3 separate regions of the Homo sapiens genome follow, and all the other regions are linked to region 2. Evidence: fine-mapped expression QTL. A gene starts in region 2. Each other region holds a variant in brackets. All regions are shown on one strand. Distances are from middle to middle.

Region 1 (5,880 bases), 690 kb after region 2:
TGTTTAGTGAATGAATCCCACTAATCTCTAGGACCAAAGAGATCTCCCCTCCTAGAAAGCCCATTGTTTCTGAGGACATCATTGACTGTTGAAAGTACCTCCTTGGGCTAAGATAATGTCTGATTCCCTGAAGTTTCTGTCTGTTGGGTTTGCAAGAGTCTAATTCCTCTCCTGTATGATAGCCTTTCAAGTCCATGTCTCCTTGAAAGTTTTTCTCTAAGCTCAGTGTCACTATTTCCTTCAATTATGCCTTGTGTTATTCAATATAGTTCATTTCCTTTGGGAGCATTAAGCAGTCAGAGCTGCCTGCAAGACAGATGCCAGAGATCAGTGTTCACAACTCTGGCTGTACATTAAAAGCACCTGGGGAATTTCTTAGAAAATACAATGGCTTGTCTTGTCCCCAGAGATTCTGATTGAATTGGCTTGGAGTAACCAATACCCAAATGATTGAAGACTTGATATTTTTAAGACATCAATTATCCCCAATTTCATCTATAAATTCAATGCAACCCCTATCAAAATTTCAGCAGATTTTTTAAAAGTTGACAGATTGACTCTAAAACTCATAAAAATGCAGAGGACCTGGAATAGCCAAAACAATTTGGAAAAAAAAAAAAAAGGAACAAAAATGGCACACTTATACTGTCTGACTTAAAGATAGTGGCATAAAAATAGTCAAATAGTTCAATGGTATAAAATAGAGACTTCAGAAATAGGCCTACACATGTATGGTCCATTGATTTTTAACAAAAGTACAAAGTCAATTCAGGAAAAAAGCATAGTCATTTTCAACAAAAGGTACTAGAACAATGGGACATTTATTTGCAAATAAATGAACTTTGGTCCATACCTTCTACCATAAATAAAATCAACTAAAAATTGATCATAGACCTGAATATAAAACCTAAAATATGAAACTTATTTTTTGTTGTTTTTAAATTTGTTCTTTTTGGTTGTTGTTGTTATTTTCCTAGGCATCAACCTCAACTTAACTAAAACTATAAAACTTCTGTAAGGAAAAATTAAGAGAAAATCTTGGTAACCTTGGGCTAAACAAAGCTTCCTTAGATACCATATGAAAGAGATGATCCATTTAAAAATTTTGATAAATTAAACTCTATCAAAATTGAGACATTTTGCTGATAGAAAGACACCAAAGAGAGTGAAAAGCCACACAGACAGGACAAAATATTTGCATATCACATATCAAATAAAGGACTTCTATCTAGAATACATAAAGAATTCTTGAAACTCAACAATAAGAACACACATACACAAATAAACCTACAGATAAGATATTTGAACAGACTTTTTGTCAAAGAAGATATTCAGATGGCAAATAAGCACATAAAAAGATGTTCATCATCATTGATCATTACAGAATGCAAATTAAAACCACAATGATATACCTATACCCACTAGAATGTCTAAAATTAAAAAGACTAATCATACTAAGTTTTGGAGAGGTTATGGAACAACAGGAACTCTCATACAATTCTGATGAAAATGTAAAATGTTATCGTTGTTTTGGAAAATGGCTTAGCAGCTTTTTAAAAAGTTAAGCCATACATCCACCAAATGACCCATTCAACTCCTAGGTATTTGCCTCAGATAAATGAAAACTTACACCCACACAAAGACTTATACATGAATATTCACAGCAGCTTTATTTGTAATAGCTCAAAACTAGAAACAACCCAAATGTCCATGTACAATGAATGAATAAGCAAATTAAGTATATATACAATGCACTATTACTCAGTAATAAAAAGGAATAAATTATTGATACAAACAACAACATGGAGGAATCTCAAAGTAATTCTGTTGTATGAAAGAAGCCAGACTTGACAGAAAGTGTACATTATAACTCCATTTGTATGAAATTCTAAGGAACAAAAACTAATCTATAGTGATATAAAACAAATCAGTGGTTGTCTGGGGATGGGGTGAGGGTGGGGCAAGAAGGTGGCATTAAAAAAGGACAAGATGAACTTAGAATAGTCAAAATCATAGACAGAAAGTAGAATAGTGGTTTCCATGGGCTCGGGATAGAAGGGAATGGGAGTTATTGTTTAATGGCTATGGAGTTTCAGTTTTACAAAATGAAAAGAGTTATGGAGTTATATGGTGGTGATGGTGCATAATTTTATGAATGTATTTAATAACACTGAACTGTATACTTAAAATTGTTAAGATGGTAAATTTTATGTCTGTGTATTTTGATAAGAAGAGTCTTTTGAGAGTGATGCATATATTCACTGTCTTGATTGTGGTGATGTTTTCACAGGTGTATTAATGTGTTAAAATTTTTCATAGTGAGACTTTAAACATATGCATTTTATTATATGCCAGCTATACTTCAGTAAAGCTTTTTTTTTTTAAGTAACATACAGAAATCCATAGATTAAGTATATCCATAGAGTAAGATAACTATACATAATCCTATTGTCAAAAAATTAATATTGGCTAGGCATGGTAGTACACGCCTATAGTCCCAGCTAAATGGAAGGCTGAGGTGGAAGAATCGTTTGAACCCAGGAATTCAAGGCTTCAGTAAGTTATGATCATGCCACTGCACTCCAGCCTGGGAGACAACACAAGATCCTGTCTAAAAAAAAAAAAAATTTAATATTTGGGCATATTTACTTCCAGCCTAATTTCTTTATAAATATATTTTAAAAACATACCTTAAATAAAACTTATATGTATGTAATGTATATGTTCAGGGAGGGATGAGACTCACTGATTTAGCTGCTGGCTTTTCACATCTCTGCAAGCAAAGAATGCTAATCTTTTGGGTTAGCTGAGAACTGCTTTAGCAGAACTGCCTGCTCTGTGCTCTACCTCCACTCATCCATTACAGTGATATTTCTTGATTTCCTAAAATGCACCTAGGTGCATGTGCTAGGTGCTAGTGCTCTAAACAAGATGGACAACTTTTGAGGCTCCCTGGAGCTATGGATGGTTGGAGGTGCTATCCCTACTCATAGAAGTTCTGCCCAAATATCTGATAGGAAGCCTGGCCCTGATGTGACTGAGAGATGTATGGCTCTTCACGCAGCTCATTCCTGGTAAAATGTTTCTGCTAGGTAAAGCACAAGCATGGCTGCATCCTTCCTACAATAGAAGAGTCAGTGTCATGAGGGGTTTCCCATGCAGATGAACAAACACATGTGCCCCCGAATTGAGCCAAAATTTTTAACCAGGCAGTAGGCCAACCCTGTCAGTACCACATGCCTTAGCTGTGGTTCCTGGTCTGAGACTTGATCCAGAGTCCAGGATAATTTTGGAGTTTCTGGAAGGGATTGAATCCATGTCTTTGGGACAATGTTGCATAGAAGCCAGAGGCATGTGACCTGGCCACACAAAAGGCCTAGTACATCTAGCTAGAGGGGTAACCAGACACCTGCCTAATCCATTTACCAAGCCCCTCAAGGCCCCAGTTCAATTCATACCCCACAACCTTACAACAGTGAAGGTCTCTCTGCCCTGCCTGTGGCTGGTTTGCTTGCTGGCAGAACAGTCCACAAGTGCAGGGAAGTAGCCAGCTC[C/A]TTCATAAACTGTTCTGCTGCTTTTCTCACTGGCCCCTATGCTTAAGCCCGCTGGCCTCAAACTCCAGCTCCTCCCACCTCAAAACATTTACACACACTGTGCCTACTGCCCCCACCCTCTTGCCTTCCCTACCCTTTATTGTTCAGATCTCAGCTGAAATGTCTCCTCAGGAAAGTCTTCCCTGTCTTTCCAGACTGGGTTAGAGTTCTGCCATTAAACACTGCCGTTGCCTAGTGAACTATTCCTCTGTAGTCTTTATTGTAGTCAATATTTATGTAGTCCTATTTTAAATATCTACCTTTAGACTGTAAAATTCTTGGAGACAGGGAGTATATCTGTCCTGTTTACCATTGTATCTTCCATGTTTAACAAATGCCCAGCACATAGTGCTTTCCACACATCTTTGTTGAGTGGAAAAGCTACCTTAGCCTAGTTTAGGACTCCCTCTTAGATAAGCAGCTCTTTCCATTTTCAATTTTTTATTTACCATGTTCCTACTCTACCCCATCCAAACATGACCTCAAAGAGAATCTGGGCTAGGAAAGTAATCTGAATGACAATATAACCCTGGAATCAGAAAGGTCACACCCCTTTGGTGACTTAGCCTTTGTTTCCAGCCCAAACTCCTCCTTCATGGTCTTGCCTTAAAATAGATTTTCTCCTCAGGAAGCCTCTCGGTCCATCCCCTAAATAAACGAAAGCCCCTTTACCAGCACAAATTCCTCATCAAGAAAGTCAAGGTTGTAAAGAGGCATTTCCTAAAGGCTGTCAGTGTGTAGTGTTTGTGGCTTTTTTCACATTTCAATCCATTTATATTTAATGTGCTTTTTTAATCACTTACCATATCTACTCTTTGCGTGGTGTTTGACAATTCAAAAATCATTTAAGTCTGAAAACCTTAAATACACTTAAAAACTCAGTTGACATTTTGGTCTTCCAGGATCATCCCAGGTAGCTTTCTCAGAGGCCTATGCAGAGATACACCTGCTGCCCATCTGGAGGTCAGACCATGCCCATATGTTCAGCATCAGAGGTCACCACGGCATCACTCAAAGGATCACAGGCTAGCCCTTGACTGGCCTTGCAAACCCTATTATTAAAGTTACAATTTTTATACTTTTTGGAGGAAAATACTTTTCCTGTTATTTTTCTATTACAGAGCTGATAGGATTGGTGCTTATTATGTGGAGCCAGAGATTAAATAATTCTCAGGGTGACTGCTTAATGGGTATGAGGTTTTCTTTTGGGGTGATGAAAGTGTTTTGAAACTAGAGAGAAGTGATAGTTGTATAATATTGTGAATGTACTCAAAGTCACTGAATTGCACACTTCAAAATAACTTTATCTTATGTGAATTTTACCTCAATAAAAAGTAATAACAATAACTATCAGGGAACAAGAATTGATAATTATCAATAATTATCAACTGTAGAATTCCTCTCACAAGAAAAGTCCAGGAAAAGTCCAGGAATTTTAGTCAGTCATCACTGAGGTCATAGAATTCCCTAGAGATCTGGCCATCTGTGACCCTCCCCCCAACACCACCACCCTGTACCGTTTGAAGCCAGCTGGATTTAATGTACCACTTAAAGATTCTATTTTTAAAAACAACTTCTAACAGCAATTTTTTGGCACAAATAAATAGCCATAATGGAAGAAAATGAAAATAACTCCTGACTATCTCTGAATATATCCTTTTTAGGTATATTTTTCTACATAATTTCACTAATCAAAACACTTTTTTGTGCTACATTTCCGAATATATGAGAGGAATTTTGGTTTCATGAAGTTTTAGTAATGCTAAATTAACAACATGTGTATTTTGGATGCATTTCATGAGTTATGTTATTCTTACTGCAAATGAATTCACTTATTCCATCAACAATTTTTTTTTTTTTTTTTTTTGAGACAAAGTCTTGTTCTGTTGCCCAGGGTGGAATGCAGTGGCGCAATCTCGGCTCACTGCAACCTCTGCCTTTCAGGTTCAGGTGATTCTCTGCCTCAGCCTCCTGAGTAGCTGGAATTACAGGTGTGCCACCATGCCCAGCTAATTTTTTGTATTTTTAGTAGAGATGGGGTTTCACTATATCGGCCAGGCTGGTCTCAAACTCCTAGCCTCAAGTGATCCACCCTCCTCAGCCTCCCAAAGTGCTGGGATCACAGGCATGAGCCACCGTGCCCGGACCATCAACAAATACCTTTTTGTACTTTCTGTGTGTCAGTCAGGGTATTAGGTGCTAGGAATACTGAGAACAATAAGGCATACCCCCCAACTCAAATAAGTATGGTCTTGATAATCACATTAAATATATAGATGATCATGTT
Region 2 (5,880 bases):
GAAGGGTAACCAGTTAAGTGTAGTTGTGTTTTATTGGGCTCACATGTAACATGGAGCTTTTAACTGAGTTGTCATTATTGTGATGTAATGTTAAGGTGTAATGACAATTCATCACTAGGTCTGACCCCTTTTTAACACCATTACTACTTGCATTTCCCTTTATTTTTTTTTTTTTTGACAGAGCCTTGCTCTGTCACCCAGGCTGGAGTGCAGTGATGCACACATAGCTCACTGCAGCCTTGAATTCCTGGGCTCAAGCAATCCTCCCGTCTCAGCCTCCCAAGTAGCTAGGACTACAGGTGTGTGACACCATGGCAGGCTAATTTTTTTTTTTTTAAAGGCAGGGTTTTTGCTGTGTTTCCTAGGCTGGTCTTGAACTCCTTTGCTCAAGCAATCCTCTTGCCTCAGCCTCCCAAAGTGGTGGGATTATAGGCACAAGCCACTGTGCCACTACCTGCATCTCTTATTTGGCATTGCCTTTCATAGAGGAAGGGGCTGCTAATGCTGCTTGATTGGATGAAAAGTTTGGATTGTGCTTCCTGCCCAGAAGATAGTGGGGAGCAAATCTTTATTCATCCAGCCCCAAGGGAAGGAATTTGTCAGCCACACAGCCTGTAACCATGAAATAGACTGAGGCTAATTAATCCAGAGGGGGAAACAAGGACACGAACATGGCCTCATTAGCAAAGGGAACAAGAGAAAATGAAATGATCATCATCATATTCTTTAAAATGTCATACAAATAAAAGAGCTACTTATTAGCTCTCAACCTTATTAATATTAATATTTAATAAGTGGGTACTTAGTATTGATTAATCAATCAGATATTTGGGGGTAGGTATCTACTATATGTTGGGTACTACATAGAAAAGTTACTTATTCTTAACAATTTGGACATGTAAATATGGGTCTATTTAAATGTATGACCTGAATAGAACTAAGAAGATACTATGGCAAGTGTTAATTTATATCAGCAAACAGAGCTCTTTTGATCTTTTTTTTTCACCATTGGGTGACAAATTTCCTGGACATGCAGAAATTCTGGCTGCTTCAAGTGTTCTTGGCACACACTAGGTAAGTCGAACATTATCAGCCTGCCAGTGGCTGGAGCCGAGGCACTCGAGGTACTCACCCTGAATGGCTGGTCTGGAATGAATGGAAAGTAAGGGATTGCTGACTGTTCTTCACCCCTCTCCCCAGATATACAAGAATTTCTGAGTAGCTGCCGATCTGTGAACACAGCTTTGAGTTCGATTGCCACATCGGCAGGAGGGTCTTCTGAGTCCCCACAGGTCAAGCTGATTGCAAAGCTGAAAAGAAAATCATCCCACTGATTAAGGGTTGGATATAAAAACATTTCAAAATGACCCAAGTGCTTATATTTCTTCTTCCTCCTCTGGGTTTGTCCATTTTTAAGAGGCCACTACTCTTCAAGAGAGGTTAGATTATGGAGAAGTAAGTCAAACCAGCTTATTTTGTTACCTAAAGCAAGCTCTGGTGAAAACTTTGGTGTTGAAAATGACTAAAATTAGAGAATTCCACTTCGGAATTCTCAAAAACAGCCACAGAAATTGACCAGGGGAAATAATGTTAAGTTGGGTTCTTATTCATCTTGATAGTTCTTGCTCCTGGCACCATGTTTCAAAACCATTAAAAAAAAAAAAAAAAATCCTCTGGCCTCCCTAAGGGTCAAAGAGAAAATGTGGGCCTATATTTATAATCTCTGATATAAATAGCTGTCTGGAGAAATGATGGCTGGGATTCATACATATTCGTTTCATGGGAACATGGTACTTTCTTGGCACTGGCAACTAGCAACACTGTCCACAAGGAGAGGAAGAGGAGTGCTAAACCACAACAGAAGTGGGCAGGGCTCAGCCACAGCCTGATAGTTCTGTCCTGACAAAGACTCTGCCTTACCTCTCTGGGTTGAGGTCTACGATGCCCATCACTAACACCTTCTTGCCTGGTCTCATGCCACCTTTAATGTGCCCACAAAATGGAACTATCTGAAAAGGGTGGGAGAAGAAAAATGAATTTTACAGCCTGTTAGGGAAAAGCCAAGACCTCAGACCCTGAAGGCCTGACCCACTGGAAAATGCAATAAACAAATGAATAAAATTTTAAAAAGCAATGAGAAAGGAGGAAGGTACAGGCAGAGACACAGAGCAAAATCATTTACCAGTCGTGGGAAGTACACGTCCGCTTGAACTGGAGAGCTCAAAGAGTTGTTTAAATGGCCATCATCTAGTTTCTAAAAATAGAAGTACACAGATTGGCTTTCCATGGGCTCTTTTTTGGGGGGCTGGAGGAAGAACCCACACAGATGTGGTGGAATCCAGCAGCCTTCCACATGCACACAGTGTCTGCAGATGATGCCTCTTCACCGTCTCTTAGATAATCTCATCACCCCCGAACAAAACCCATCCTTTCCACCCGGTAGTTAAGCCTCTGAAGATCCGCAGACCCTTCAGATCCAGATCAAAATCAAGGTCGAGGTCCACCGAAGAGCCAGAGCCCCACGCCGGAGGAGGGCAGGCCCCTCTCCAACCGTAAACGCTTCTGGAAGCGCGGTGGGCCAGGCCTGTCCTTCGGGACGTGACTGAAGTGCAGCGGCCGTGCTCAACTTCTCTCGGGAGCCCCGGGCGCCGACCCATTTCCAAGGGGGAATCCCCGGTACGTCGGGGGCGGTGGCGGGGCGCGCGCCCCGGACACACTCACCCACGCGCACACCTGGCTGGCGGTTGCACGGCACAGAGGGGGCTGTCGGGCGTCCCTACCCGCCATCCTCCCCAAACTCCCTCCCCAGCCCAGAGCCCCGCAGCCCGGGAGCCTCTCCAGCCCCTAACACCGGCCGCGCGCAGCCAGCGGCTGCTAACAGGTACCGGGCGCCTTCCCACGCGCCGGGCGCCGGCCGGGCCTGCGGCTGCTCAGCACCCCAGCACTGCTGGAGCAGGCGGCGGCGGAGTGCGGGACGGCGGGGAGGGGCGCCTCGCGCGCGCCCTGCCACACTCACCACCACGGCATCGCTGTCGGCCACTGATCCCGCCATCTTCTTGCCCGGCGCGGCGGGGTACGTGGGACGCGGCGCGCGGGCGGGGATCCCGGGGCTGTCCTGCGCGGGGCGGGGGCGGGGGCGCGGGTCCGAGCTGGCGGCGGGCGCGCGCACACACGAGGGGGCGCGCGCGCGCGCGCCCGGGGCCCGGCGCCGACCTGGCAGGCAGAGCCTGGGAGGAGGGGAGGGGAGGGAGGCAGCGCGAGCTGGGAGGGCGAAGGTGCTTGCCGCGGCCCAGAACGGCCCCGGACCCGGGCCGACGGGGCTGCTTGCTGCCGCTGCCGCTGCCGCTGCCCGACCAAGAAAAGTGGCGAGGGCCGTGCCGCGTCGGCCCTGGGCAGCATTTAAAGGCCTCCGGGGCCCGGCTCGGGAACCGGGAACAGGGCGGGGACCCGGCGGGGCTGCCGCGGCTTGCTCAGCGGGCCCTGCCCCTCGGCCATTGGACGGTGGCGGAGGCCGGGGCGGGAGGGACGGGCCTGTCCGGGTCCGGGAGGGCGGGGGCCCTGTCGGCTCTCACCGGCCAGAGGGTGGGCAGGGCCGGGGCTGGAGAAGTGAGGGCCCGAGCCGGTCAGGTGACAGGTGCTCGTGCCACCCGCGCCCCTCCCTCCAGCCTCCTTCCTCCTGCCACGTCCTGGGCGCTGGTGGGGCGATGGGAGGCGAGGTCGAGGGAAGATTGGGTGCTGGGGGTGGTATTCCAGAGTGGGAGACTTGGCAGGATTTCTTTCAGAGAATTCCAACAAAATCGGGGGAAGGATTCATTCTGCTCTCTAGGGCAGAAAGAGAATGGAAGGTCTGAAGGCTTGCAGAAATAAATGTGTGACCTGAAAGAACGAAGCAGAGAGGACTCAAGGTAGGGACCTTTCTATCCCAGGAGGCTAGATACAGAAAGGTCGCTCTTCCCTGTGGAAGGACAGGCAGGTCTAGGGGTCCCTGGACTCTCTCGAGCAGGAGTCAAAGCCTTACCAAATCAAAGTGGGCGCAGTCACTGTCCTCAGAGAGCCTCCATTGAGCCCTGTTTTTAACAAGTCACTTGCCCAGTCTGGGGTAGTCAGCTTCTCACTGAAAATCTCCTCATACCCTTTGTGGAGTACTTCCCAGGGGATACACACCTCTTTTATTCAAGCCAGAAATTCCTTTATGGCATTTCCACACTAGGACGATTATGTAACTTCTCAGATAAAGCTGTATCAACATATCCTCTATTAGGTGACATCCTTGGCTGAAACATTCCATTGCATGAATCACCGGGGCGTTCTATGCTAATAAGCAGGGAGCATGTGTGACCTACTGCAGTCCCAGAGGGCCCCTCAGAGGCTCCTTTTTTTTTTTTTTTTTTTTTTTTTAAATTGAGACGGAGTCTCCCTCTGTGGCCCAGGCTGGAGTGCAGTGGCGCGATCTCAGCTCACTGCAACCTTCGCCGCCCGGGGAGGCTTCTTTCTTCTAGTCACTGCAATTGGCTGTGTGGCCTAGAACATCAATGTGGCTTTTGTGTCTTAGTTTTCCCTTTATGGACCAGAGCTAATGATGGTAATCTCAGTTGAGCAGGGAGAATTACCTGCACACGCCTGTAAGCCTCACTCATATCCTCTGGAAGTGGTTCTTGAACTAGATAGAGGCTAAAGCGCAGTACGCTTGTGGCTGCAGCACACTTTGTTTACCAGTCTTAGCTCAAAATCACACTTTATTACTTTAAAATGTTAGGCACTTATAGGAAATGATTGACATTTGAAAGCATACTTTAGTATGTATCAATTTCTGAGAGTCTGGTATAGAGAAGAAGCATTAAAGTGCAGTAGTTCTTTATCATTAACTGAGTGACACAATAAGGGTGACACTACATGTGATGGTGGTTAAAGAGCCGGTGTCTCGCGTTCAAATCCTGGCTCTACTATTCACTAGCTGTGTGATCTTGGAAAAATTACTAAACTTCTCTGTGCCTTAGTTTCTTCATCTGTGACTCAGAGATGACAATGATGATAATAATGCCTATCTCAGGTTATTGGGAAGATTAAGTAAATACCTTCCTTAAAACAGTATTGGGGACATAGTAAGCACTTATTATACCAAAATACTGAGTGCCTGCTGTATACCAGGCACTGGGGATCCAGCAGGCTACTTTTTTGCTGAGCTTACATTCTAGTGGGCAAAGGAAATCAATAAACAAAATATGTCGGGTGACAAAAGTGTTAGGAAAAAGTAATAAGGCCAGGTGCGGTGGCTCATGCCTATAATCCCAGCAATATAGGAGGCTGAGGCAAGAGGATCACTTGAGGCCAAGAGTTTGAGACAGGCCTGGGCAACACAGAGAGACTCTGTCTCTACAAAAATAAAAAAAAAAATTAGCTGGGTGTGGTGGTGTGCACCTGTAGTCCCAGCTACTTGGGAGGCTGAGGTGGGAGGATCACTTGAAGCCAGGAGGTCAAGGCTGCAGTGAGCTGTGATCTCACCACTCTACTGCAGCTTGGGTGACAGAGTGAGAACCTGTCTCAATAATAATAAAAATAATTAAAAAGCCAGTAGAGAGAGAGATAGGAGGTAGGGTGATGCTATTTATACAGGATGGTCAGGGAAGCCACCTCTGGTAAAGTGACATTTGAGAAGACCCCTGAAGGAGGGGGGTGAGTCATGTGGACATCTGGAGGAAGAGTTTGCTGGCACAGGGAACTGCAAGGGCAAAGTCCCCAAGTACTGGGGCTGGGGGCAGTGACTGAGGAGATGTGTAGCTAGAAATGGATAGCCCTTCTACACTGTGGTTGAGGATTGGCTTTTACATGGGGAAATAGGAAGATATTAAAAGTTTCTGAGCAAAGGAGGGACATAGTTTG
Region 3 (5,880 bases), 23 kb after region 2:
TGGATAGGATATTCTGTCAGTTAAGATGTTAGTCTTGAACATGGTGAGGCGTGTTCAACAAAGGGAGCGTTTACAAAGGTGTGGTCATGTTAAGGAAAACTAACAAGGAATGGTGCAGTATTCCAGGGTTGGCAACAATGGTATCACTTCTAGGCCTGAATAGGTCATAGGAGGACGCAAGGTAATGGACTCAGACAGATAGTTGTATGAAAGGGCTGATAGACAGGAGCTGTGGCCTTTGAATGGGAGACAGTTAACGCATGATGACCTAGTAGAGAAGGAAGGAAATGAGTATCCTGGCCTTGATGATTTCCACTCACCCTCTTGTGTCTTGGCATGGCATCCAATTAGTTGAGCCCAACTGCCAGAAGGCAGTTAATGCAATCCACAAAGGTCAGCCACCTGAAGCCCTAAGTGGAATGAAAAAGAAAGGTAAGTGGATCTGGAAAAAAACATGGAAAATATTCAGCACAAATATTCTGGCATTAAGATACTTTAGAGTGGCTGATGATATGAGACTTTACAAATAGATGCAAGATTGTTAATCAGAGGTCTCACTTCATTCAGCTTTTGAATGTTATTGAAAACTATTGAATTTAAATAACTTAACTTTCAAATAGAAACAAAACAGTATGTAATGCCATTATTTGATCCCATTCAGGTATGTGGATAGTAGAATTTATTCCTTGCTTGAAGGAAGTTTTACTACGCCAGAATCTCAGAAGCAAATAAGAAAGTAGCATTTCAAATCTCAGAAGTCAGTAAGAAAGCAAAAGAAGAAGCAAATGGGAGCAGTCAAGGAATGTTAAGAAGGGACGAGATGGCCGGGCGCGGTGGCTCACACCTGTCATCCCAGCACTTTGGGAGGCCAAGGCAGGCAGATCACGAGGTCAAGGGATCAAGACCATCCTGGCCAACATGGTGAACCCTGTCTCTACTAAAAATACAAAAATTAGCCGGGCATGGTGGCACACACCTGTAGTCCTAGCTACTCAAGAGGCTGAGGCAGGAGAATCGCTTGAACCTGGCAGGCAGAGGTTGCAGTGAGCCGAGATCATGCCACTGCACTCCAGCCTGATAACAGAGTGAAACTCCGTCTCAAAAAAATAAAAAAAAAGGTGGTCATATTTCATCACTCTAGTTGAATTACTTTTCCCATCTCTCTATAACTCTCCAGTCTTTGGATATATATATACAAATATTTGTATGTAGTTATAATCACAGCTCACAGCATTTTGATGGTGTAGTTAATACCTTGGGCTTTGGAGACTAAGATGCCTGGGCCTGAATTCCAACTTCATGACTCACTAACTTTGTGACCTTGATTAAACACTTCTATCCCCACCTGGCAGTAATGAGGTACCTCTCCCCCTCTTTGCTGGGATGGTATCAGAGGGGGCCTAGTGAATGGTAAGGACTTTCACCATCACTCAGCAGCAATGGGCCATCTCCACCACTGTGTCTAATGGCCATGTGAGGAGCTAGAATTCCCACCCTGCCCAGCAGCAATAAAGATGCCCTCCATGCTCAACTATTTGTTAGCTAAGTGGGGAACCAGGACTTCTACCCCCACCTAGGAAGAATAAGGCAGCATTCCTCTCTTTCACCTACCAGAACTGTATCAGAAAAAGTCAGTAGAACCAAGTTTAGTTAAGATCCAGTCTCATAATATGAACATATCCAGGACCACTTATCATACCAAGAACCAGAAAGCTCTCAAACTGAATGAAAAAGGCAATTCATAGAACCCAACAATGAGATGACAGTGATGTTAGAATTATCTGACAAATTTTAAGCAGCCATGATAAAAGCAGCAATAGCAATCATGCACACACTTGAAACAAATGAAAAAGTTGAAAACCTCAGCAAAGAAACAGAAAGTCACAGGAAAGAAATAGAAGAAATAGAAGCATACAAAGAAGAACTAAATGAACTGAATAATACAGAATGAAAACAAGAAACTTAGTGAAAAGCAGAATGAAGGAGACAGCAGAATGGAGGAGATAGAAGAAATAATCAGTGAGGTAGAAGAAAGAATAACAGAAATTACTGTTTGAAAAACTGAGAGAAAAATATGCTGGAAGAAAAAGAAACAGTCTCAGAGGCCTGTGGGACTAAAACAAGAGCTTTAACATTTGTGTCATCAGAGCCCCGGAAGGAGATAAGACGAGGACAGAGCTAAAAATGTACTTTAAAAAATAATGGCTGAAAACTTTCTGAATTTGGCAAGAGATATAATCCTACAGATTCAAGAAGCTGAGTGAACCCCAAACAGAATATATCTGAAGAAATTCACACCAACTCACAATTATAATTAAGCTTCTGAAAACTAAAGACAATGAAAAAATCTTGAAGGCTGAGAAAATGGACATTTTACCTAGAGGAGAAAGCAGTTAAAATGACAGCAGATTTCTGGTCAGAAATCAGGAGAACCAGAAGGAAGTGGTACAACATTTTTCAAGTGCTGAAAGAAAAGAACCATCCACCCAGCATCTTGCAAAACTACCTTTCGGGAGTGAAATGAAAATCAAGATATTCTCAGATGAATGAAAATTAAGAGAATTTGTCACCAGCAAACCTACCATAAAAAAATGGCTAAAGAAAGTTTTTTAAATAGAGAGGAAACAACAAAAGAAGGAAACTTGTAATATCAGGAAGGAAAGAAGGAAGAACGCTATAAACAAACATATGGGTAAATATAATAGGCTTTCCTTCTCATCTTGAGTTTTCCAAATTACATTGTATGGTTGAAGCAAAAATAATAACACGGTATAATATGGTTCTAAAATGTATGAATATTTAAGATGATCATATTGTAAATGTGGGAGAGTAAAGAAATCTAGACCAAGCATGGTGGCTCACACCTGTAATCCCAGCACTTTGGGAGGCCAAGGTGGGCAGATCATTTGAGGTCAGGAGTTTGAGACCAGCCTGGCCAACATGGTGAAACCCCGTCTCTACTAATAATACAAAAATTAGCCGGGTGTGGTAGCACATGCCTGTAATCCCAGCTACTTGGGAGGCTGAGGCAGGAGAATCGCTTGAACCTGGGAGGTGGAGGTTGCAGTGAGCCAAGATCGTGCTATTTTACTCCAGCCTGGGTGACAAGAGCAAAACTCCATCTCAAAAAAGAAAAAAAAAAAA[G/AG]AAATCTAGAGGAAGGTAAAGTTTTTATCCTTTATTTGAACTATTAAAATTATGATACTAGTAGACTATAATAAGTTATATGTATATGATGTAACACTTAGAGCAACCACCATAAAAGCTATATAAAGAGATATACTAAAAATACTATAGATAAATCAAAATAGAATTCTAAAGAATATTCAAGTAAGCCAAAAGAAGGGAGGGGAAAAAACAGAGAGATGAAAAACAGAGAGAAAAAATAAAATGGCAGACATAAACCCTAAAACATCCATAATTACATTAAATGTAAGTTTTCTAAATACACTAATTAAAAGGCAGAGATTGCCAGAGTGAATTAAAAACATGACCCAACTATATGCTGTCTAGAAGAAACTTACTTCGAATAAAATGATATAGGGTGAACCTGAAAGGATGAAAAAAAAATCACGTAAATATTAAATAAAGAAAAGAAGGATTAACTATATTAATATCAAATACAGTACTCTTCAGAAGAAAGAAAATTACCAGAGACAGGGAATATTGATAATAACAAAAGAGTCAATCCACCAAGAAGACATAGCATCCTAAATGTGTATGCAACAAACAACAGAGCTGAAAAATATGTGAAACAAAAACTGATAGAACTGAACAGAGAAATAGACAAATCCACAATTATAGTTGGAGACTTCAATATCTTTATTTCAACAATTGATACAACTACCAGAGAGTAAATCAGCAAGGATGTAAAAGAACTCAACAAGGCTGGGCACGGTGGCTTATGCTGTAATCCCAGCACTTTGGGAGGCTGAGGCGGGTGGATCACGAGGTCAGGAGTTCGAGACCAGCTTGGCCAACATGATGAAACCGTTTCCACTAAAAATACAAAAAATTAGCTGGGTGTGGTAGTGCATGCCTGTAGTCCCAGCTACTCAGAAGGCTGAGGCAGGAGGATCACTTAAACCCAGGAGGCAGAGGTTGCAGTGAGCCAAGATTGTGCCATTGCGCTTCAGCCTGGTGACAGAGTGAGACTCAGTCTCAAAAAAAAAAAAAAAAAAAAATCAACAGTACAATCAACTAACAGAATTTAGTCAACATTTGAAGAACACTTCACCCAAACGCAGCTGAAAATTCATTCCTTTCAAGTGCATGTGGATCATATGCCAATATAGATCATATCCTGGGCCATAAAACAAACCTCAACAATTTAAAATAAGTAAATCATACAGTGTGTTGTCTGAACACAATGGAATAAAATTAAAAACAAATAACAGAAAGGAAAACTTTCTGTTATTTTGGAAATAACATTTCTGTTAAACTTGGAGATGAAAGAGCCCTTCTAAAGAATCCATGGGTCAAAGAGGAAGTCTCAAGGGGAAACAAGAATACATTGAACTACATGAAGATGAAAATACAACATGTCAAAATTTGTGGGACATAGCTAGAGAAATGCTGAGAGGGAAATTTAATGCATACATTAGAAAGAGGAAAAGTCTCAAATACATAATCTAAGCTCCCATGACCAAACTTAAAAAAAGAGGAGCAGAATAAACCCAAAACAAGACAAAGAAATGAACTAGTAAAGATAAGAGCAGAAATTAATAAAAACAAAAACAGAAAGGCAATAGAGAAAATCAATGAAACAAAAAGCTGTTTCTTTAAAGGAATCAATCAGATTGACAAGCCTCTATCAAGACTTACAAAGAAAAAAGAGAGAAGGCACATATTATCAATATCAGGAATAAAATGGCATATCTCTGAAGACCTCAGGGAAGACCCTGAAGGCATCAAAAGGATAATAAGGGAATACTATGAACAACTCTACATATATAAATTTGACAACTGAAGTGAAACGGACTGACACTTTGAAAAAAAACTATAACTCACTCAATATGAAATAGATCATTTAAATAGCCCTATAACTTTAAGGACATTAAATTAGAAATGTTTAAAATTCTCCCCAAAGAAATCTCCAGTCCCAGACGTTTTCATCACAGAATTCCACCAGATGTTTAAAGAAGAATTAATACAAATTCTGTACAATCTCTCCCAGAATATGCAAAAGGAGGAAATATATCTCCATTAATTTTATGAAGTTACTCTTACCATATACCCAAACAAGACAAAACAGTGAAAAAAAAAAAACTACAGAACAATGTCTCCTGTGATAGATACAAAAATCCCTTAAAAACTGGCAAATAGAATTCAGCAACATAAAAATGGTTACACATCATGACCAAATGGGGATTATTCCAGGGATGTAAGCGTGGTTCAATATCCAAAAATCAGTTTAATATATCATATTAACAGACAGAAATAAAAAATCACATGATTATATCAATTGCTGCGGAAACAGTATTTGAGAGCATTTAACATCTTTTAATGGTTAAGAAAACCCCAAAAATATAAATAAAGGGGAACTTTTTCAACACGATAAAGAACATCTACCAAAATAATTCTATTGCAATTATATTTAATGGTGAGAGACTGGATGCTTTCTTCCTAAGACTGGGAATAAGGTAAGGACGTCCACACTCAATATTCTTATTCAACATAGTACTGGAAGTTCTATTCAATTAATAATGCAAGAAATAAAAGGTATATGGATCAGTAAAAGAGAAATAAAATTATTTCTATATGCAGATAATGTGATTGACTATGCAGAAAATTTCAAGGAATCTACAAAAAAAAATCCTAGAAGTAATAAGTTCAACAAGGTCATAGGATGGAAGATGCAAAATAACATGCATTATATTTCTA

Direction of the effects. Positions count from the first base shown, and alleles are read on the strand shown. Sizes are in standard deviations (SD) of each study's normalised expression. Not every link is listed here.
For the expression in skeletal muscle of the gene that starts at base 3,436 in region 2, allele G in region 3 goes with a higher level than allele AG (moderate effect, 0.47 SD a copy in FUSION).

Evidence for each region. PIP is the estimated chance that this variant, and not a neighbour inherited with it, causes the effect.
Region 1: its variant is the best candidate, but not a certain one, in a credible set for the expression of LGALSL in whole blood (INTERVAL, PIP 0.52).
Region 3: its variant is the best candidate, but not a certain one, in a credible set for the expression of LGALSL in skeletal muscle (FUSION, PIP 0.58).

Annotation. Positions count from the first base shown.
Region 1 is chr2:63,763,082-63,768,961 of GRCh38, reverse strand. It overlaps a transcript of WDPCP not described here. Among named protein-coding and RNA genes, the nearest start is that of UGP2, 76 kb to the left of the region's middle. RefSeq lists an enhancer at 2,787-3,602. The variant C/A (reference allele first, on the strand shown) is at 3,555.
Region 2 is chr2:64,451,718-64,457,597 of GRCh38, reverse strand. It overlaps LGALSL (galectin like), which reads right to left and starts at 3,436. Exons shown (of 5, transcript NM_014181.3): 1 at 3,017-3,436; 2 at 2,183-2,254; 3 at 1,921-2,009; 4 at 1,133-1,310. The coding sequence starts at 3,052. It overlaps LGALSL-DT (LGALSL divergent transcript), which reads left to right and starts at 2,720. Exons shown (of 3, transcript XR_002959392.2): 1 at 2,720-3,073. RefSeq lists silencers at 2,790-3,089, 3,180-3,249, 3,260-3,679.
Region 3 is chr2:64,428,499-64,434,378 of GRCh38, reverse strand. The region is part of intron 1 of LGALSL-DT (LGALSL divergent transcript); the gene reads left to right. Among named protein-coding and RNA genes, the nearest start is that of LGALSL, 23 kb to the left of the region's middle. The variant G/AG (reference allele first, on the strand shown) is at 3,145.